Linked DNA regions of Homo sapiens. The protein of the gene in region 5 purifies or fractionates together with the protein of the main gene of each other region. This does not show direct contact. Each region holds a gene or a part of one and is shown on either strand. Other genes may lie near its edges. The genes, in order: PCDH1, RAB6B, CYRIB, SERPINB6 and TMPRSS11A.

Evidence for each region.
Region 1: the proteins of TMPRSS11A (region 5) and PCDH1 purify together in Homo sapiens (affinity purification with mass spectrometry; one large-scale study listed by BioGRID and IntAct). This does not show direct contact.
Region 2: the proteins of TMPRSS11A (region 5) and RAB6B purify together in Homo sapiens (affinity purification with mass spectrometry; one large-scale study listed by BioGRID and IntAct). This does not show direct contact.
Region 3: the proteins of TMPRSS11A (region 5) and CYRIB purify together in Homo sapiens (affinity purification with mass spectrometry; one large-scale study listed by BioGRID and IntAct). This does not show direct contact.
Region 4: the proteins of TMPRSS11A (region 5) and SERPINB6 purify together in Homo sapiens (affinity purification with mass spectrometry, with the first as the bait; one large-scale study listed by BioGRID). This does not show direct contact.

What each region holds. Positions count from the first base shown.
Region 1 is NC_000005.10:141,864,489-141,868,894, forward strand, and holds part of PCDH1 (protocadherin-1 isoform 2 precursor), read right to left. Parts: coding exon 4,081-4,406; intron 3,991-4,080; exon of another isoform or gene 2,982-3,990; intron 1,715-2,981; exon of another isoform or gene 1,584-1,714; intron 940-1,583; coding exon 1-939. UniProt on the Homo sapiens protein: May be involved in cell-cell interaction processes and in cell adhesion.
Region 2 is NC_000003.12:133,839,868-133,844,273, reverse strand, and holds part of RAB6B (ras-related protein Rab-6B), read left to right. Parts: intron 1-2,610; coding exon 2,611-2,664; intron 2,665-2,883; coding exon 2,884-2,989; intron 2,990-4,406. UniProt on the Homo sapiens protein: The small GTPases Rab are key regulators of intracellular membrane trafficking, from the formation of transport vesicles to their fusion with membranes. Rabs cycle between active GTP-bound and inactive GDP-bound states.
Region 3 is NC_000008.11:129,845,154-129,849,559, forward strand, and holds part of CYRIB (CYFIP-related Rac1 interactor B), read right to left. Parts: intron 4,217-4,406; coding exon 4,090-4,216; intron 1,722-4,089; coding exon 1,651-1,721; intron 1-1,650. UniProt on the Homo sapiens protein: Negatively regulates RAC1 signaling and RAC1-driven cytoskeletal remodeling. Regulates chemotaxis, cell migration and epithelial polarization by controlling the polarity, plasticity, duration and extent of protrusions.
Region 4 is NC_000006.12:2,961,136-2,965,541, reverse strand, and holds part of SERPINB6 (serpin B6), read left to right. Parts: intron 1-3,411; exon of another isoform or gene 3,412-4,406.
Region 5 is NC_000004.12:67,908,596-67,912,100, forward strand, and holds the end of TMPRSS11A (transmembrane protease serine 11A), read right to left. Parts: intron 2,909-3,505; coding exon 2,747-2,908; 3' UTR 800-2,746; downstream 1-799. UniProt on the Homo sapiens protein: Probable serine protease which may play a role in cellular senescence. Overexpression inhibits cell growth and induce G1 cell cycle arrest.

The DNA.
Region 1 (4,406 bases), on a different chromosome or scaffold from region 5:
CAGCATAAATTTGGGGTCATTGTCATTGCAGTCCAGCACATTGACAAGGACAGTGGCTGTGCCCTGGAGGCTAGGACTGCCCCGGTCAGCTGCCACCACCTTCAACTCATAGCTCTCCCGCTGTTCCCGATCCAGAGATGTCTTCACCTGGATCTCTCCAGTCTCGGGTGAGATGGTGAAGAGGCCCTTAGCAGCCGGCTCAGGCTCCAGAGAGTAAACCAGCTCAGCATTAGAGCCAGAGTCAGCATCACTGGCAGTGATCTCAGCAATCACTTCACCAGGCTTGTTGTTTTCCGGGAAGGCGACCTCAGTGACACTCTGAGTGAAGACAGGTGCGTTGTCATTGACGTCCACCACCTGCACCTTGAGGGAGTTAGTGCTGGAGAGTGGGGGGTTGCCAGAGTCCACAGCCACAATCTCAATGGTGTAGTCTTTGACCTTCTCGTAGTCTAGCGGGGTGGTAGTCTGCAGGAAATACTTCTTCTTGCTGTCACTGCCTGTCTCACTGGCCTGGCGCAGCTGGAAGGGCACATCACCTGCCACCACACAGGTGACAGCTGCATTCTCTCCCTCATCTCGGTCAGACACCTGCACCAGGGCCACAGCTGTCTCCTCTGCCACATCCTCTGAGATGTTAGCCATCCCATCTTGATGAGTCACTAGCCCTATGCCCCGGATCTCAATGGTGGGGGCATTGTCATTCATGTCCTTCACGGTCACAACCACCTGGGCACGGGCACTCTTGGGGTTGGTGCCTCGGTCCTTAGCAAGCACTGAGAAGCGCAGGGTGCTTAGGTCCTCACGGTCCACCGGGCCCTGAACAGTGATAAGTCCAGTGTTCCTGTCCAGTCGAAGAAGACGCCTCACAACTTCGGGCGCCTGGTGGAATGTGTATTCGATTTCTGCATTGGCACCTTGGTCTGAGTCATTGGCCTTCACCTATAGGGCAGGAGAGAAAAACAAGGAGAACAGAGATGGTTTAGATCAGGGATAGCAAATAAAGGGGCACACATGCTGCCAATGTCCTTTCCAACAAGCATGGCAGACACAGCCAATCCAACATCGCTCCCTTTCCAGAAGCCATGTGTGTCCTGCCTTTTCCCAATTCGGACATTCTGGCAGGCATTACTAACCTATTTTCCTGAAGAGCCCAGATGCAGCCTGCAAATCCTCAACAGTGCTACAGGCAACTATTGGAGATGGGACAGGGCAGAATTAAACCTCACTTGTCATTGCTGTATGGGTCCACAAAAATACCAGGAGAGGATGAGGATCCAATAGAACTAGGGAAGCCATTTCACCAATGAACCCTGCCTGAACCCTCCTGAAGAGATGGAGAGGTGCGAGTAGTAGAGGCGGTGTGTGTGCCCGTGTGAATGTGCACTACATGCACGCACGCATGCACATATGTATGTGTATGATTGTGTCAGAATGTGTGATTAAATGTGATATGTTTGTGTGAGAAGGTATATGTGTTTGTATGTGTATGATTGTGTCAGAATGTGTGATTATGTGTGATTTTTGTGTGAGAAGGTATATGTGTTTGTGCATATGTGTGTTTGCACACATGAGTAAAGACTCACATGCCCATCTGAAGGCCCCAGGTTGGGGGATTTCTTTTGAAAGAAGTCAGGTAGGGTTGTGGGTCAGAGAAGCCCTCCAGGCCGGGCCCCAGCCACCGCTCTGTCAAACCGGGGAAACCTGTTTCAGCAGCAACTTCTCCTCCCGACTGGCACCGGCTGGCGAGGCACCAATGCGAGGAATCCGGCCTGAGCCTGCAGCCAGGAGGGAGGGGTTGATGCAGGCCACAGAGCCTGCTGGCAGTGGGCTGGGCTCCCAGCATCAAACAATGAACTGTCTGTCCCTCTGCAGTCAGCGGGCACACCCTCCCACGCCAACTCCAACGCGCACTCGACTCAACTCTATACAAACATGGTTGGTAATGGGGAAGAGGACCCAGGTGGGAATGGCCATGGGGTACTACTGGGCAGGGAGAAACATGAGGGCTGGAGTTAGGTCACAGCCAGACAGAATGTGACTGCTGTGGGGAGTGAGGGGAGAATAAGCATAACTTGGCAGAGTCTCTGGGGTAACAAAACAGAAGAGTCCTGGGTTCAAATCCCAGTTATACCACTTCCCAAGTAACTATGTGACCTTGGGCCAATTATTTAACCTCCCTAAGCCTCAGTCTATGAATGTGTGAAATGGGGATAATAATGTAACCTATTTCACAGAACTGTGGTGAGCATCAAATGGGATAATACAGGTAAAAATGCCTGACATTGCCCGGCACAGGGAAAGTGCTCCCTAAAGAGCATGTATTTCTTTTTGTCTGTCCAACCATCTACCCTCCTACCCGCCTGCCTCTGAAAAATCAGTGCTAATGCAGTAGTGGGCACTGCACCTAGTGAGCCCTCAAGCCACTGCCAGTCCTCTCCTCCTTGGGAATGGGAACTCCAGCTATCCCCGCCTGGGCTTTTCCTACAGTGAAGACTCCTGGGCAATGGTTCCCCAGGTACCCTGGTCTCTGCTCACATCTCTGAGTGCCAAACCCTAACAGTTTCTCCTCCCCTCACCCCAGTCTACCTGTCATCAACTTTATGATGAGGATCCCCAGTCTCCCTTGGCTCTAGATTGGTCTTCCAGCTTATCTGTCTCTTGTCTTACCTCTCTTTGTCTCTGTGACTCTTGGCTTCTGTCTCCTTTCTATCCTTGCTCAGTTCTGATTCTTCCCCTTTCCCACAGCCTGTTTTCTTCCATCCTCTCTTTTCAGCCCTGCTGACCTCTCTGCTTACTCTCTGCCCTACTCTCCCGCTTCACCTCACTGGGAGGTGGTAAAGCTCTTACACACCTAGGCTCTGAAGCCAGACTCTTGGCTGCGGCAAAGGTGGACTCTGAACTCATTAGCTGTAGGATATCAGGCGAGTTTTCTAATCTGTTTGGGCCCGGTTTCTCATCTGCAAAATGGGGATAATACTTACCTTGTACTGTAAGGATTAAATGATATAATACACATCATGTGTTTAGAACGGTGCCTGGCACCTAGGCTATTATTATTTGCTATCCCCGACTGTCTGTCTCCCTTTTCTTTCTCAGTCTCTTTTCCAGGTCCCAGTCCACCAGGCTCTAAAAAAAAAAAAAAAGGCTGAAACTCCCACCCATCTCCCACTTTGGCTTGAGGACCCAGGACTAAGGGTTTTCCAGGATGGGTAATGGTGTCCAGGGCAGGCCGAGCCTCCTCAGCTCCCTCACATCAAAGAGAGAGGCATCTTCAGCCCATGGGGAAGGGGAAAGGAGCTGGGGCTGGCAGGAGGCCAGAGCTGAGATGACAGCGGGAGATACACCCACCTGTCTGCAGAGACGCTTTCTTTGCTCCCTCCCAGTCCCCAGCCCCACCAAGCTGCCTAGCGCCTGGGGCAGTTCCCATGGAGAGGGGTGCTGAGAACTTCAACAGAGGAAATTGACCCCCCACTGAACCCCACTGTACCAAGCACCCCACATCTATGGGCACCCCATGCCTAGGGGAGGAGGCATGTATACAGACACCCTAGTATGTTTTTTCAGAACTCTGAGGGTCCCACCTGGCTAAAATGATCTCATCTGACTTTGTCAGGAAGAGGCAAAATGAGGCTATATCCTCCAGCTTCAGGAAAACCTCATCTGGCTAAAGAGAAACTATCCCTGGTTGGGAAGATACTCTCATCTCAGGAGAGATTCTACCTGGATAAACGGTGATTCCTTTGTTCCAACTCAGCTCACCTGGCTAGCAGAGAAGGATCTACTTGACTAGGGCGGGAGTTTTACTTCTCAGAGGTTCCCCCAGCTTGAGTCTGCCTTAGGGGTCACGGGAAACTGTTCATATGCTATTTCACTGTCACCTAAGTAGCCTGATAGAGGAAAGTAATATCACCTGCTGGGGTGGGGTGGGAAAGACTCCCCTGGCTGAGTTTGGGGAGAAGGGGTCTCACTACAGTATTCTGGCAGTTTTTCCCCTAAGTGAAGGGAACTCTCACCTGGTTGGGTGGGCTCCCATTTCTAGTGGTGGGTCACCCTGACAGTTATACGGAGGGGGCCTCTCACCTGGATGACCGAGTGGCCTATGGGGCTATTCTCAGATAGTTCGGCCTCATAGGAGGGCCGCTCAAACTTGGGGGCGTTGTCATTGGTGTCAAGCACGGTGACACGCAGCAGGGCACTGCTGGCGCGTGGGGGGCTGCCGCCATCCTGCACCTTGATGGTGAGGTCATAGGAGTCCCAGCGCTCACGGTCCAGGTTGCCCATCACAATGAGCTGTGGTTGCTTCTCCTCCTGGTCCTCTGCCACCTGCAGCCCAAATAGCTCCTGGGCCTCAGGCCCAGCCTGCAGCTCATAGGATGCCACACCGTTGGGACCAGCATCACGGTCTG
Region 2 (4,406 bases), on a different chromosome or scaffold from region 5:
TGCTGCCTCTGGTTAGTCTGTTATGGGATGTGAGAGAAAGTATGTGGATGTTCAGTAATGGTGTTTATGATTATGGAGGCCACTGGGTTGAGCTTTGCTGGGACTTCATCCAAGTGGCACAATTTCTTGTTTCATTTGGTGACTTCTCTGCCCTTTGTGGAAGCAGAAGTGCCTTGTGACATGTGAGGTGTGATGGGGTTGTCATCATTACAGTTATCAGTAGCATTACCATCAGGTGCCTACCTTTGAGAGATACGTTTCTCCATGGTTCTTTGCTTGTTAATTAGGCTATGTTAACAGAAACCCAAAATAACAGTGACTTAAACAAAATAGAACAATCTGAGCAGTCCAGCGCTGCTGAAGTAGCTCCTCAGGGTCAGGGAGTCAGCCTTCGTTGATGTCATCGCTCCTCTGTCATCCTCATCTGGATGGGCCACTATGACTCATCCCCACCGGACAGTGGGAAAGGGAGCAGCTGTGGGTACTCCCTACCCACAGAGGACCTGACCCCAAAGATGCCTACATCACGTTCACATCCCATTAACCAGAATGTAGCCGCCCAGCTGCAAAGAAGGCTGGGAAATATGTTCTTTATTTGGGGCAGCCCTGAGTCCATCTGCACACCCAGAATTCTGTTACTATAGAAAGGGAAACTACATACTGGGGACAACCAGCAGTCCCTGCCACCAGTCCTAAGCTCATGCACCTGGTTTTAGTTCAAAGGTGACTCTACAAAAGGAGCATGTCACTCCTGGGGAGCCTGTTGAGCATTGAGGAGTTGAGAGACTTCTACCTGCTATGCACATTTCTCCATAAGGGAATCAGAAGACAAGGATTGTCAATCTAACATACACCTGTGAAGGAAAAAGTCTGCATCCACAAGCACTGGTCATTGCAGATTTGTGCCTCGGTGGCTACACTATGCGAAGCTGTGGTAGAAAGAGCCCAGGTGCTGCCAAGTTTGCAGCTCTGATCTTCCCAGCCCTGCTACTGATGAGTGAAGTCACACTAGGCATGTCCTTTAACCCTCTGGTCTGTTCTTTCATCTCCAAAGTAAGGGATTGATTGGATTGTATCTAAGGTGTTTTGTCTAGTGCCCACATTCTAGCATCGTATGCTCCAGAGCGTAGAATGACCCCCCATATCTTTGTGTTATGAGGCAAGCTTCCAGGAGGGTGCAAGCCAGTCTCAGTCCTTTGTGGAACGAGTTGGGAGTGTGACTGTGTAAACATGCACACTTGTGCACACACATTGGTGCATACCTTTGCATTCAGCCTGGGGGGACTGGAGATATGACCTTTTCTATTTTCTTGGGCTTCCTTTGGTTGTGTTTTTTGCAGTCAAAAATCATGGCATTCCACACAATTAAACTTATTTATTAAACTTTATTTCAAAGGACTTTTTCTAATTTTAGTACTGTTATATGTTCATTGTGGAAAGTAGAGAAAAGTGTAATGAAGGAGTGTAATGAAGGAAAGAAAATGCTCTGTCACTATTCAGACCGTGATGCTATTAACATGTTAGCAGATTCCCTTCACTTCAGTGTCTAAGAAAACATGAAAAATACTCATAGATCTATTTGAGTTAATCTAATTGGGATCACTCGCCACATGATGTTTTATAACCTGTTTTTTGTTTATTTGTTTTTTTAACTGGATAACCGTTTCCCCAAATCCTTAAATATTTTTTCAAGAATGTGATTGTTAACAGCTGCCAAGGGTTCTAATCACATGGATATACCACACTATGCTTATTTAGTGCCGTGGACATTCAGGCTGTGTCCAAGTCTTTGTTATTATTGATTACATAGCAGTGATATCTCCATTTTACATTGACAGCATCTCAGTCCTACTGACAGGTACCGGGTGCCTGTGAGGCCCAGAGAGGTTGGTTGCCTGCCCAAGGCCACACAGCAAGTGAGTGGTGGGTCCTGGCCATCTGGCCACAAGGCTGGCTGCCTCTCACAGGTGCCAGGGCAGAAGAGGCATAGGTGTGGCACAGGGGAGCTGGTGACAGCTTCCAATGTTTTGGCTTGGGGAGAAAAGAGCCAGTGGGGCCTCCCAGCGAGAGGCCACTCTGGGTGGTCTGCAGTGCCCGCACCTGAGAAAAGCCATGCTGCTGTTTGCACCCACACAGCAGCAAGCTGCCTGCTCCTGCCCCCTGCCTCCCACCCTCCCGAGGTCAGTGTTGAGCCCAGGCCCATGCTTTAGGGCAGAGGGAAGAGGCTTTGGAAGCTGCAGGTTAGGCCATGAAGGGAACAAGGCAGGGAGTCCAGGTGGGGAGGGCAGGATATGTGCGTTGAGTGGCCTGAGTGGCCTTGCTCCTGGGGAGGCCTCCTCACCACTGCGCTCTCACTGCTTCTGAAGCACTTGCCCTCTCCAGAGAAGATCTCACCCTATAAAGGCCACCCTCATCTTTCCTCAGCTTGATCCCTCAGTGAGAGAGCCGCTGAGTGGTAGCAGGGAGGGGCAGGGAGGACAGAGCATGGCCACATTAGACCTGACATGAGCGTCCCCTCTTGCTGGTTATGCCACCACCTGTGGTCGCTAGGCTTTTGCCCCTTTGCATGAGACCTTTTGATTTTGACCGTTCTGTGCTTTTCTCTAACAGGCAACCATTGGGATTGACTTCTTGTCAAAAACCATGTACTTGGAGGACCGCACGGTGAGCACCTAATATCAGGACTGGGAGGGGCAGGGAGGGTTCCTTTGGGCTTATCCCCTAGGACCCTTAGCTGGGCACCACTGAGAGCACCTGCCGACACTAGGGGCTGGAGCTGGTGATGCCAGCATTGCAGAGCCCGGCTCTCCCAGTCCCCCGGACCAGGAGGACCTCACTGCCCCACTGACCCCTCTGCCCATGGTCCTGCCCTCCCTGAGACAGGTGCGACTGCAGCTCTGGGACACAGCTGGTCAGGAGAGGTTCCGCAGCCTGATCCCCAGCTACATCCGGGACTCCACGGTGGCTGTGGTGGTGTACGACATCACAAGTGAGTGAGGCTCTGCTCCTAAGGGAGGGTGGCTCATAGGGGGTCCAGGGCCCAGGTGTGACCCTGGCCAGGCCTGTGTGCATGTGTGTGCACACGCATGTGTGTGCACACGCATGTGTGTGCGATTGCTCCCTGAATGCAGAAAGGCAGGGAGCAGTGGTGAGTTGCCTTTGAACACCAACATGGTTTCCACTGCTCCCCACCCTCCTGCAACCGACAGGGGTTTATAGGGCCAGGTTGGTCCTGCTCGGAGTGGAGGCCAGCTTGTGGTGTGAGCAGATGCTCACAAGGTTGGCCCTGCTCCAGCCTCTCTGCACCCTCCCTCTCCCTGGCTGTCAGAAAGCTCCCTAAGGAGCTACTTCTATATGTGTGTCACCATGGGAGAAGACGCTGGTCCCTAGGCCAACCCCGGCCCAGCAGCTGTGGGTGCAGGACTCCCTGGGAAGGTAGGCAAGGGGGTCTGGAAGCGCAGTAGGCTGGTAACCCTTCTCCAGTACTGTGGCTCTTCAGGCCAGGGCAGGTGTTCTTAACAGGACTGCACAGCCTCAAGGGCGCACAGGGCCAGAGGTGGGGGTGGGGGGCCGAGGCAGAGGCCAGACCTGCAAGGCTCTTGTAATGGAACACACCTGATAAGCCCTCAGGGCTGTGGTTACCCTGAAGTGGGCGAATGCCCTAGGTGCTGTCCACAGCCTTAAAAATCACACAAGGAAGCATGCATGTCCCCGCGCTGGTGCATGCCCCCGCCACCCAGCCTGCTGCCCTGGCTCTGCCCACCCCTTCTGTCCACCTCTCTTCTGACCACAGGCCCCCTCCACACCTGAGTGCAGGTGGGAGCTGGGCCCGCAAGGGCCTGGGTTCACATGGCCTGAGGCACATCAGAAGGGATACCAGGCTGTGTGAAACTGAGGCTTCTGAGGACAGCTACCTCCCCTCCCCTTGGGTGTGCAGGCTGCCGAGTGGTGGGTATTGCCTTATAGCTGCTCTGCCCTGCAAGGCCTATCATGGCAGCTGAGGGGGGTCAGGCTGCCCAGAAGTGGCCTTGTCTCTCCTGGATTTTTGAGTGCACCTGGCTCCCCTGACTAGTCCCGGGGCCACCTTTCCCCTCCTCTCATCTGCAGAGCCTGAGGGTTCTCTTCAGAAACCCCTCTGGCCTTCCCCAAACTCTCCTGAGCTCCCATGGTGGGGACACCACTCAGTAGGGCCCTTCCTTCCCTAGAGGCTGCTGTGTCCTCCTCTGCCCACCCTCACTGTTCCCAAACTTGCCAAGTCGCGCGCGCATGTGTGTGTGTGTGTGTGTATGCACACACACGTGTGACCCAGTTCTCACTCTCCACTCTGAATCCCCAGAGTCAGGTCTCTCAGGTGGGCCCCTAAAGCCACTATTCCATGTGGCAAATCATGACACTGTGATCTTCCA
Region 3 (4,406 bases), on a different chromosome or scaffold from region 5:
AAAAGGAAACTGAACTACCCTTAAAGTGAAACGTAGATTCTGAGTTAGGCATACTACCTTCAAGCTCAAGAAAGAATCCTAAAACCTCCTAGATCTCAATTACCTTCAAGTTTTTAAAAAAGATTTCCTGCCACTTGCTGGCTTCAAAGAGCCTGACCAATCAGAAAGACAAAGTCTTGGGAGAAAAATCAGGTTGACTGAGACACAGGGAGTATTCAGAAAGAAACCAAGGAGGAAAGACTCATGATATCATTAAATATTGGCAAAACCACTGAAGTATGCGTTGTAAAAACCCCAAGAATACAGAATTCTAAAAACTAGGCTTATGGTTAAAATAGTTTGACATTATAAGGATTTTAAATTATGTTCCTTAATCTTGCTGATGTTCATTTAGAATAGATCACCTTTATTCAGGCAGCTACCGCTTATGCAACACTTTTCATAATCTTTTAAAAACTATTTTTAAACATTTTTTCATAATCTTAATAAAATCATTTGACAGTTCCGCTTAGCTGAAATGATACAGCCTACATTTTATGTGGTAAATATCATTATATAAATATTTCTGTGTTCATGTAATTTTTGTGTTTAAACCCTCAAAAAATCAAGTAATGGGACATCATCTTTTATGTCATGTGAATACTACCAATTAAATCTCTGTAGTCAAATGTTATAAAGTATCGAGATTTTCATTTAAAAATGTTCTAGCAGCTGGGCACAGTGGCTCATGCTGTAATCTCAGCACTCTGGGAGGCCAAGGTGGGTGGATCACTTGAGGTCAGGAGTTTGAGACCAGCCTGGCCAACATGGTGAAACGCTGTCTTTACTAAAAATACAAAATACAGGCACATGCCTGTGATCCCAGCTACTCGGGAGGCTGAGGCAGGAGAAGCACTTGAACCTGGGAGGCCGAGGTTCCAATAAGCCAAGATTGTGCCACTGTACTCTAGCCTGGGTGACAGAGCGAGATTCCAACTCTAAATAACGAAATAATGTTCTAGCATTTGTAGAAGTTTGAGCAACTAAATTAAGTAAAACTAATCTAAGAAAAGACATTAAATAATGACTACTTAATTTTTATTGTAGGAAATACATAAAAATAACAGAACACAAGTCTGAGCACAAATGTAATTACATTCTATTAAGAGGAAAGAGCTAGTTACAAGCCACTTTGTAAGATATTATTTTGTAAAAAGATAACTACTACATAGAGCTATTATCTATATATGTAAAGAAAAAACTCTGGAAGGCTATATGCTAATAGTGGCTTATCTCAAAATGGTGAGATTACATTATTTCTTTTTATTTACATTTTCTTATGTTTTCTGAATTTTATTTATAACTGGTATATAATACTTTTATTACAAAAACAAGCAATCTCTGTTTGAAGAGAAGCAACAAGTAAAAGCCAAAATCTTCAACCAGAAAATGAAGCTGCTATTGTCATGTGTCCCACACATTCCTCATCATAAAATACCGTAACCAGTGTTTGGAAGCAAGATTATCAATAAACAAAATAAGATCTTCATATTTCTAGCTTGAACACTTATTTTTATATCCTATTCACACTTAATGCATTTTCTTTACATAAACATCGACCATTTTCCTTACAGATTTTTTCTGTACATACGTACACGTACATATACACACCTGAGAGCATTTAGAAGACCTTCCACACTATTAGGAGGTTGGTCCTTAAGAACTTTGATACAACCTTTCATCTAAAGAAAAAGAAAACAGAAAAGGTAAAACAGCCATTTTTTTCATGTAACATTCCTTTTCAAAATAGTAAAATAAATCAAGACCATAACTATGGAACTCAAGAGATTACATACTATGTCAAATTAATTATTCTTAGAACAGAAAAAAACCCAACCTAAGAGTTATTATTCTCACTTAGTGAAAACAAAATCTTTTTGAGAACAAAATCAGTCAAACTAATATACCACACATGCAATGAAAAACAAACGGTTTGCTAAGGGAAGACTTCTGGAAAAGGTGCTGAGTGGCGATTTAAAGGACAGAATGGGCTGGGCAGGGTGGCTCAGGCCTGTAATTCCAACACTTTGGGAGGCTGAGGCGGGCGGATCACAAGGTCAGGAGTTCGAGACCATCCTGCCTAACACGGTAAAACCCCGTCTCTACTAAAAATACAAAAAAATTAGCCAGGCGTGGTGGTGGGCGCCTGTAGTCCCAGCTACTCGGGAGGCTGAGGCAGGAGAATGGCGTGAACCCAGGAGGCAGAGCTTGCAGTGAGCCGAGATCGCACTACTGCACTCCAGCCTGGGTGACAGAGCGAGACTCCGTCACAAAAAATAAAATAAAATAAAAAATAAAGGACAGAATGAGTATGTTACTAAGGAAAAGAAGAACTTTCAGGTAGAGAAACCTCACAGAGTAAAGTATCACACAGAGGACAGATAGGAATTTTTCAGCACTGCACCTGGAGTTATGAGAGGCTGAAAGCCAGGATGAGTTATACGAAGTGTTATGCCTGGCAGCAGGGGACTCACAGGTTATTTTAAAAGGTAACCACTTGATGACGATGGTATTTAAGATATATTAGCCTGGTTGTTATAAAAAAGCATAATACAGCAGAAAGAACACAGGCTTTGGAAGCCAGAGAAATGTGGGTTCTACCTTTTCTAGCAACTCTTTTTATTTTTGAGATGGAGTCTCGCTCTGTCACCCAGGCTGGAGTGTAGTGGCGCAATCTTGGTTCACTGCAACCTCTGCCTCCTGGATTTAAGCGATTCTCCCACCTCAGCCTCCCGAGTAGCTGGGACTACAGATGTGTGCCACCACACCCAGCTAATTTTTGTATTTTTTTTCAGTAGAGATGAGGTTTCACCATGTTGGCCAGGCTGGTCTTGAACTCCTAACCTTAGGTGATCCGCCTGCCTCGGCCTGCCAAAGTGCTGGGATTACAGGCATAAACCACTGCACCCGGCCTACTAGCAATTCTATTACTTGATCTGCTAAACTTTAGTTGCCCTGTCAGTAAAGGGAGATGACACCTAAAAGAGTATTTTCAGAGTCACAAGGGAGAACAAACGTAAAATTCCTGGGACATGGCAACCATACAGTAAATATTAACTCATTTCTCTTTACATATGACAGGTGTACATGAAGGCAACAAGCTTGGCTAGTAATCAGTAATCGAGATCCGAAATGCTAAGAGCCTAAACTAGCTATGAAAGGGAAACGGGAAGACAATTCTCACCAAACACTAATGAACTAGATGTGAGAGGTTGGGGAAAGAAACTACGAAGTAGAGAAATTAGAAAACTATTTCTAATACAAACTTTTACAGAGAGAAGAAAAGTCGAGAGCCAACTATAGTCACAAATTATTATGACTAGGTAGGGGAGGGAAAATACATAAAGTCTTCATCTTTTTCCACTGGAGCATCCTACTGGCTGTCTTTTTAATTTCAAGACAGGGTCTCTCTCTCACCCAGACTGAATGCAGTGGTGTGATCGTGGCTCACTGCAGGCTGGAACTCCTGGGCTCAAGGGATCCTCCCACTTCAGCCTCTCAACGTAGCTGTGACTACCGATGTGTGCCACCACACCTGGCTAATTTTTTTTTTTTTTTTGTAGAAATGGGGGTCTCACTATGCTGCCCAGGCTGGTCTTCTACTCCTGGGCTCAAGTGATCCTCCTGCTTCAGCCTGCCAAAGTGCTTGGGCTACAGGCATGAGCCAGCACGCCCAGCAGCACTACTGACTTTTTATATGCATTCTGAAATAAACATTTTATTTGAAATGGCCTTTGGCCAAAGGAATTAAAGGATATGACTCAAAATTCCTTATATCTAATTATCTATTTATATTGCCAAATACGTAGTAGAAGCCTTCCAGGAGGTACTCACTAGACAATATAGTCATCCTTTGATCATTCTATTCCACCTGAATACAGGCCACAAGAAAAACAGCACAGGGACAGAGGAGATGAAAGTCCACCATTTCACAAACTATAAATCTGAGTTTTGTGAGAGTCCGGTTTGCTGGCTCTTATCATAAAATAAAATCCTATGGTTTCCATGGAGAAACTCGTTTGAAATTATTTATATAAAACAATAACTTACATCAATTTTGGAAGTTTTAGCAAATGCTCCCACTGGATGTACGTGGTCATAGAGTATTATGACACCCACCATTACCCTCAAGCAGAATGACACTGTCTCTTCATTTGTAAATCTGCTTCTGTATTCCCTGAAGAGTAGATAAGATATGCATGGAAGAAGTGCATTACAAAATTCTTTTTAAAAACACACACACACAAGAAAAACCTCTTCTGAAATATTTTATTCAAATTTCTATCCATTAGTTGAATGCAGTATGTTCACAAGTAGCCACACTGATACATTCAAATCTTATGTCTGTTTTCCTTTCCAAATCAACC
Region 4 (4,406 bases), on a different chromosome or scaffold from region 5:
TAAGTTTGCATAAAGCATTAAAAAATTAGACATATTAAAATATGTCATCAACACTTAAATAAGAAAAAATAATTTCTTTGCCCTGTAAGCAATGTGCTGTGTTTGAGAAAAAAAATTAGTCTGACCAGCCTGCCAAACTATAAATTGGCCATGTATTATAGTAGGGAAACTTGTCCCCGTCTATGAACATTTCTCTTCGGCGTGAAAGTCGCGCATGCTCAGCAGCATGGTGACAGACGGAGGGAGAGGAAAATGCAGCTGGTAGATTATTCCTTGTGTCGAAGCATATGAAAAAAGTACTGAAAGGGTTTGACTGACCTGTAGAACATTTGGGGAGAATTTGAAAATACATAGTACATAGAAAACTAAGGAAAGGGGGGAAAGGCACTATTAATATAAGGCAAATCAGCATTACATAAAAAGGAAATGGGTTCCCATCCCACCACCTGGCTTAGCATCGAATGCTATTTAGTGATAATAAAGCAAACCTGTGGATCGGGACCGGGCCCTCGGCCTCTAGATTAGGAAGGCAATAGATAATGTCTAGAATTTGGCCGGGTGCCTGTAGTTCCAGCACTTTAGGAGGCTGACGCTAAAGGATTGCTTGAGGCCAGGAGTTCGAGGCTGCAGTGGGCCGTGATCATGCAACTGCATTCCAGCCTGGGCGACAGCGTGAGACCCCTACCCTAATAAAAATAAATACATACATAAAATAAAACATGATAAAGTTATTAGGTCAAAAATAGTAGTATACACGTTATGTAGAAATATGGTGGTAAATACCAGAAGAAAGAGCAAAGGGTTTGGAAGTGATTGCTTCTGGGGAGTTGGGAGGGCTGAGAAGGAGCTTGTTGTCTTTTATAACATCTCTTTTAACACCACCTGATTTTTAAACTGAATGTATATATAGTAATTTCATAAAAAGAAGAGTTAACCAACCCCCTCCATAAATTATATGCTATAGAAAATGTGAAAATCCAGAAAAACACAAAAAACATAAAAATTACCGTTAGAAACATTTGGTGTATAGTATTTCCCTCTATTCTGTCTGTAAATTGTGCCTACACTTACCTTTTTTCCTAATTTACATGGATAAATTTAAATTGTATGTATAGTTTTATATCTTTTTTAATGTAATCTTGTGTATTCCCATGTCATTACTGTGATTTTTATTATTATTAGCCCTATTTATATCCCATAATGTTGTACATAATGTTTTATTATGTACAAAACCTGTGAGTTTTACCTTCAGTGAAATTCCTAGAAGTGGAATTTTTAATTCAGATAGTATGAATGTTTCCATGACATTTTCTTTTCTTCCTTCACTTTATTGTATTTTACTTTTATTTTTGACATAATTCTAAATCATACTCAGGAAATACTGGTGTACCAATTTACAGTATTGTTACTGATCGTGGGTTCTTAGATTCTCATGCAGTGGAAATTGACATGAGACAGAGAAAGTGTCCCAGACAAGGCTTTATAATGGGCTTATGCTGGAGCAGGAGGGCAGCGGCACAGGGGCAGGAGTTCCCGGGCTGGCCCTCGGGACAGGTGTTCCTGGTGTTTTAGGGTGACATGGATAGTCATGAGGTGTGTCAGCAGCATTACACACGCTAGTGGCAGGCACCGGGGAACATCATGTTAGCACAGATGTGTCATGATCAGGGCATGGCAGATGAGCCCCTGAGGAGAGGGTTTTAGTAATACAACAAGGCAAGAGGTCAGGATCGTCGTTCTGATCCTGTATGCATGTGGGCATCAGGCTTAACTCCCTTGGGTAAGATTTGGGGTGGAACATGGCTTATCTTGTTTCCCTCCCTGGTTTGCATGGTCTGGTGGGCAGGTGTGATGGCGTGGGGGATGTATGGAAAATACGGGAGTGGGTACGGGCCAAGCTCTGTCCCTGCTGCCTCCGTATTACTTGCATGGCGTGAGAAGGATTGCCTGTCTTTGTCAGTATTAGCATGAATTGTTTTTGTATTTGCAAGGTTCATGGTTTGAAAAGGCATCTTTAATGTACTCTCCACCATTGCTTTTTGGGAAGGCTGTGCACCATGGTGTTAAGAGAGTGAACTACAGAGCCATGCGGTCCTGGCTTCCAGCCGTCATTCTGCCATTGTTGCCCTGGGTTCTCTGGAGACATGGTACTTAAAGAGCTAAGGCCCGATTTCTTTGCTTATAAAACGTAGGTGTTCTCAGCAGCTATCTCAGAGGGTAAGGGTCTTTCAGTGTGGACCTAGCACATAGTATATATCAAAAAAGTGATATTTTTTTCTGAAGTTGAAACTTTTAAATATAATTATTAGCTATTGTCTTTCTTTTTTGGGGGTAAATTTGTTAATGTCCTTTGCACGTGTTTCTACTGGGGTCTGTTTTTCCTATTTTTTTAGTAGCCCAGTTACTCCATTATTTTTCAGTTTTAAGAGTATTTTACTGATTCTGGCTGCTTTTTGGGTAGACCATCAAATTGTTTGCTAACTGTGCTCATTTTGTCTCCTTTCTGACAATCTCCTTTCTCATTATGTTTCATGAGTTGTATTTGCCTTTGCCAGAACTATCTGAACAAAGTTACACAAGGTTGGGACGACAGATATTTTTATCTTGTTCCTGTTTGGGGAGTTAAGGGACTAATGTTCTATCATCAGCTGTGCTGGTGGCTGCTGAAGTAGGTAATTCTTACCTTGTTAAGGAAGCATGGGAAGTACCACTTGCTGTTTGACGTAAGGGTGTTTATCAGGAGTAGGATATTCAGTTATTTAATGACTAACATAGTTTCTGCTAAGAAAATTAAATCTCTAGGACATCCTTGATTTATTGTTTCTTTGTTGCTCAGCAATTTTTATGTAAGGCATAGATAGAATTTTACCTTTCACGGCTGTCAGCAGTGTTTTCAACTAAGAAATGGAATATCATTACTGACCTCACTGTGGGCTTTGAAAATTGAGCTACATTTTTGCTCTTCCTTCTGCATTTGGTATTAACAATTATTGAATGTTAGAGATGGAAGGGAACCCAGATTATCTGGTATATGCTTTTCCTCATACAGAGAGGAAACTGGTATCAGGAGTCCAGTGATTTGCCCAGGGTACCAGAGCCAGGACTAGAGACCCTGTCTTCCTCCTGACTCGTGCCATCTCCTCCGAATATCCTGGTCTGGTTTCTCCAGTTCAGTGTTTCAGATTAAATCCCCTGACACAGTAAAACTCATGTGCACTGACTTCTCCTCCGAATATCCTGCTTTGGTTTCTCCAGTTCAGTATTTCAAATTAAATCCCCTGACACAGTGAAACTCATGTGCACCGACTTCTCCTCTGCCCCAGATGGTGTAACCTGGGCTGGCCAGACAGGCACCTCCCCAGTGGGCGTGTCTTCAGACAAAGGTGGCTTTGCTTTGTTGAAGTTACTGATATAAAGATCAGCGCCTGAAACAGATTCTCCGGGATATTACCGGAGACGGAGTGTTTTATTATTAGCCTTTCTTAGGTGGACATTTCCATTTGAATTAAAAGTCCTTTAGGCTGGGCGTGGTGCATGGCTGTAATCTCAGCACCTTGGGAGGCTGAGGCAGGAAGATCACTTGAGGCCAGGCGTTGGAGAGCAGCCTGGGCAAGGTGGCAAGAACCTTGTCTCTACAAAAAAAAAAGCGTAAGAGTCCTTCAGCATTTGAGGGGAAAACGTGTGCTGACGGTAGAATAGTCTAGGATGGGGTTGGGGGAGCATGTGGGACCTTCCCCTGGCCAGCTGACATGGTACTTAACCTCTGTCTTTTTTTTTTGGTTTATGGAGGAGCCATCTCACCTGGCAGCCTCTCCACGTGGGCTGAGCCCTCTTGGGGACAAAGACAGAAGTCCATGTCCCCAGGCCAGGGAAAACCCCACGTGTCAGGGTGTCTGCTGGCTTTGAGTCCTGAGACACGGACTTCACAGGCTGTGCTTCTTGCTTTGGGGCATCTCCTCTTTTCTTATTCTTAACCTAGAAGTTTCCCTGTTTTACCAATTGTTTCTCTTCAAGTTGATAAGCGGGCAGTTCTTGTGATCTAGAATCCAAAGAACCAAAAATAGGCCCAATTTTGCTTCAGTTCCGTGTAATGGCTACTTTTGTTTATACTGGTGTTCCCAGGGCTCTGCGGAATCCTGGATTTATTTATGTATCATCAAAGACTCCCTTATATTCAGAAGAATTTTAGTAATATGTACTTTCTATTGTCCTTTTATTAGAAATTAGTAATCTTAAAATATGTTTGGAAAGGCTTGGCAAGCCAGGAGTGCCCAGTGCCCCAAGTATTCTGTGTAATGAATAAAGAAGAGTTTGAAAACAAAATATTTAAACAAGCACAGCAAACAAGCTTTATCAGGTGTATGAGTTATTGTCTTGGTTTCCCGTGGCTGCTGTAACAAATGACC
Region 5 (3,505 bases):
TTTTTTTAAAAGTAGAATAGAATTGAGCAGCATAGAGTACAATAAAGTAGAAAATATTAGATTTCCTTGCATTTTGTAATGGTAAGTATTGTTTTATGAAACTTCTGTTTCAATTTTTGTATGTATTTGGTTGTATATGTAGGGAGCTGTGATGTAAAATGTATTTCCTACTGTGGATTTTGGTCAAGGTAGAGGGTGTTTTTCATAAAGCCCTGTCTTCATGGAAAACTTTAATGGTGCTCTATGACTATACTCTAGTTCAGGCAGAAGCATAAGACAAATTCTTTGAGGACATTACGTGCGGGGAGATCAGTCTGTATTTGAAACAGCCACAGACTGAAGCACCAGTCATGTATTCTGTTATTTCTTTTAGGAACATGATAGTGAATGTTCAGCTTGATCAGAAAACTATAGTTTCTGAATATTTGATGTCATGACTTTGAGTCATCTCTCACATTTCTAAAAATGATCAAGTGAATCCAGAATAGTGGTTCTCAAAAGGGGACAATTTTATACCTTAGGGGACCTTTGCCAATGTCTGGAGATATTTTTTATTATAATAATTTGAGAAAAGGGGTATGCTACAGGCATCTAGTGGGATGCTGCTAAGTATTCTGCAATGAACAGGAGAGCCCCTTACAATAAAGCATTATCCAGATCAAAATATTAATAGTGCCAAGTTTGTGAACTCAGCTTCAGAGTGATCCAAACTAGTTATTTAAAAGAAATGTGATTTTAATGACAGTTGAAAGATTCATGATACTGGCCTAAAACAAACTCAGTGATATTGTTTGTAGAATGCTCTGATCACCAACTTTATTAGATTAAAAATGACATATCAATATCTGCTTACATGTGACCCAAAATGAAATGCTGCACCAAATAGTTTAAAAATACAAAGTTCATAATTCTAAGATCATTTCCTGAATCTGAACATCCAAAGTCAGCATTAAGTTTTACCACCATAATATAGAATAATTTATATGCCTATGTATATTTATATATGAAGAAGAAACTTTGTCTTGAAGTGAATTCAGAGAATTGGCAGCCAGCTGCCTAAATGAATCTCGTCATTTAAAATTCTTATCTTAAGAGTTTTCTATCTTAATACAGGTTCAATAGCTCTCACTTAAAATTTTACAGATCTGATGATTCAATAAAAATAGTTAAGAATTCAATAAAAATAGTTAAGAATATACTCATATTCTTAAACATAACATAAGTATATTGGCCTATGTGACATGCAATCTCTTCTCAGCTTTAAAATTCTATGAGTCTAAATTATGAATCAAGTGTTTTATGAGTGAACTGCATATCTCTTTTAGATATTTTAGGATTATTTTCATGCCTTCTCAATAGCATGTGAGGGAAATTATTATAAAGCAAGTTCATCGTTCCAATGATTTGTCTTATATTTGGGCTAAATGAGTAAATGACTCCCCAGCCTGCAGACCATAATATTTCACAGGCATTGCCAAGCAGAATAATTGCTTCCATAAAGCCTTAATTTAATTGTATTACGAAATACATGAGCCTTACTCTCCTAATGACTTCAGGAGACACGTTGCTGATGGAGTATGTTTTCTCTTGTGGACCACATATAACAAAGTGGTCCAAAAGAGAAAACATACTATATGTTATATGTTATAGCCCCATGTGTTATATGCAGTAGGTGCTCAAATTTTATATTTATTTTCAAATTTTTCTAAAACTAGGGTTTTATGATTGCAATAGTTGGGACATTGCCATAAGCCTTATAAGCTATTTGGCTGTAGCAATGCGAGGGCATAAAATTTTTCTTGCTACGGAGGAACATAATGTTCTTTGATTTTTCAAGGTATTAGTAAATGCTTATTTTTTTCAGGCATTTAACCCTACAATAATAATGCACAAAATTTCCCCCTTGTGGTCAAAATATGTAAGTGCATCTGTGAAATGTCAAATTTCTTATGCCGGTGTTTTGGGACTAATGAAATTACCATCACCTTCTCCCAAATTTTTAACAAATATATAGTTTTGATTAACTAATCACTCTATCTATCTATATATAATTCATTAATCGGGATTTTTCTGATTATATCTGTAGGATAAGAATATCTATGTGACTGTATGTGTGTGTGTGTGTAGAAAAGTCACCAAAAATTAGAGGTTTTATAACTAAAAAAAGTTAGAAGATCTCTGGCTTGTTTTACTATCAGACTTTGTTTCCTACATATGACTTTCTTTTATTGGTGTCTCTCAAATGGGTGTAGAAGTAGAAAATTCATTTCTTATGGTGGAAAGGTACTTTGGAAAATCTGATTGAATAAGGAAAAAGAAAAAAAAGTATTTGTGAGCTCGAGAGAAATGTAGGGAATTATACAAGGGTTTCTTGAACACTTTGTGAGTTCAAAAAGTTTCTCAGTTAAAAGGAGACCCTTGACAACGACATTCTAAAAATCCCATGGACTATCTTCAAAAATATGTATTGAGTCTCACTGGTACTTCAACATTCGTGATTTAAAGAGCTAAGTATCTCTACCGTATTTTTCAAGCCAGATCCATTACTTTACAAATAAAAGTCCCTTATAAATTGGCTAAGGATTATTGGTTGATTAAAGTGATTCTAAATAACTTACGTTGTGTGTTTCATGTTACTAGATCCAGTAATTTAATATCACTTTGTTGTACTACACCCACTAAATAGTTGAATTCTCATGCATATATGACCTGCATACAGCTTTCTTTGTTTAACTTTTATCGTGAATTAGATGCCTGTTTTTGAAGCAATCCAGTTTCGGTAATAAGTCACTTGTGTGTAGACTCCAGGCTTGTCCTTTTGACCACAGTTATCTCCCCAGCTTACAATTCCAATGAGATACCACGTATCTTTCAGATCCCTTGTGACTAAAGGTCCCCCAGAATCACCCTAAAAATAAAAACATAAGAAAAAAGAAAGAAAATTAGCTAAACATAAAGCTCATTATTTAAGATATTTTGATGAATCACATATTTTGTTACTAGACAGTACATGTATAGACTATCAACACAGAATAATTAATTGAGACATGGATTTTAATATTACAAAGAGCCTTAAGGTTCAACTTTCACATTTAAAAAATAAAATTTATTTTGTTAGAGTAAACAGCACTTAGTTAAAAAAGGCAAAAACGAAAAAACATGAAGAGGCTTGAAAAGCAGTTATGTCCCATGTTACCTCACGCAAGCTGTTCTCCAAGAGGTAGCCACTTCATGCTTGTTTAATGATTTCTTATAGTATCTAACTCCTTATCACTAGATAATATGCTCAAATTACAGCTTCTAGGTTTAGACAGTAAATATTTATTTTCTCTTACGTAGTTAGGGATTTAGTTGTTTTACAACTTCTTTGCAACTTTTCCACACCACATCTTTACATTATAGCATCTCTATTTTTGGTTAAATTAACAGCCTACATTTAGTACCAGTGTGTAAATTTTATTAATTGAAGAGTCAAGTAACATATTTGGATTACAGAAATCTTTTT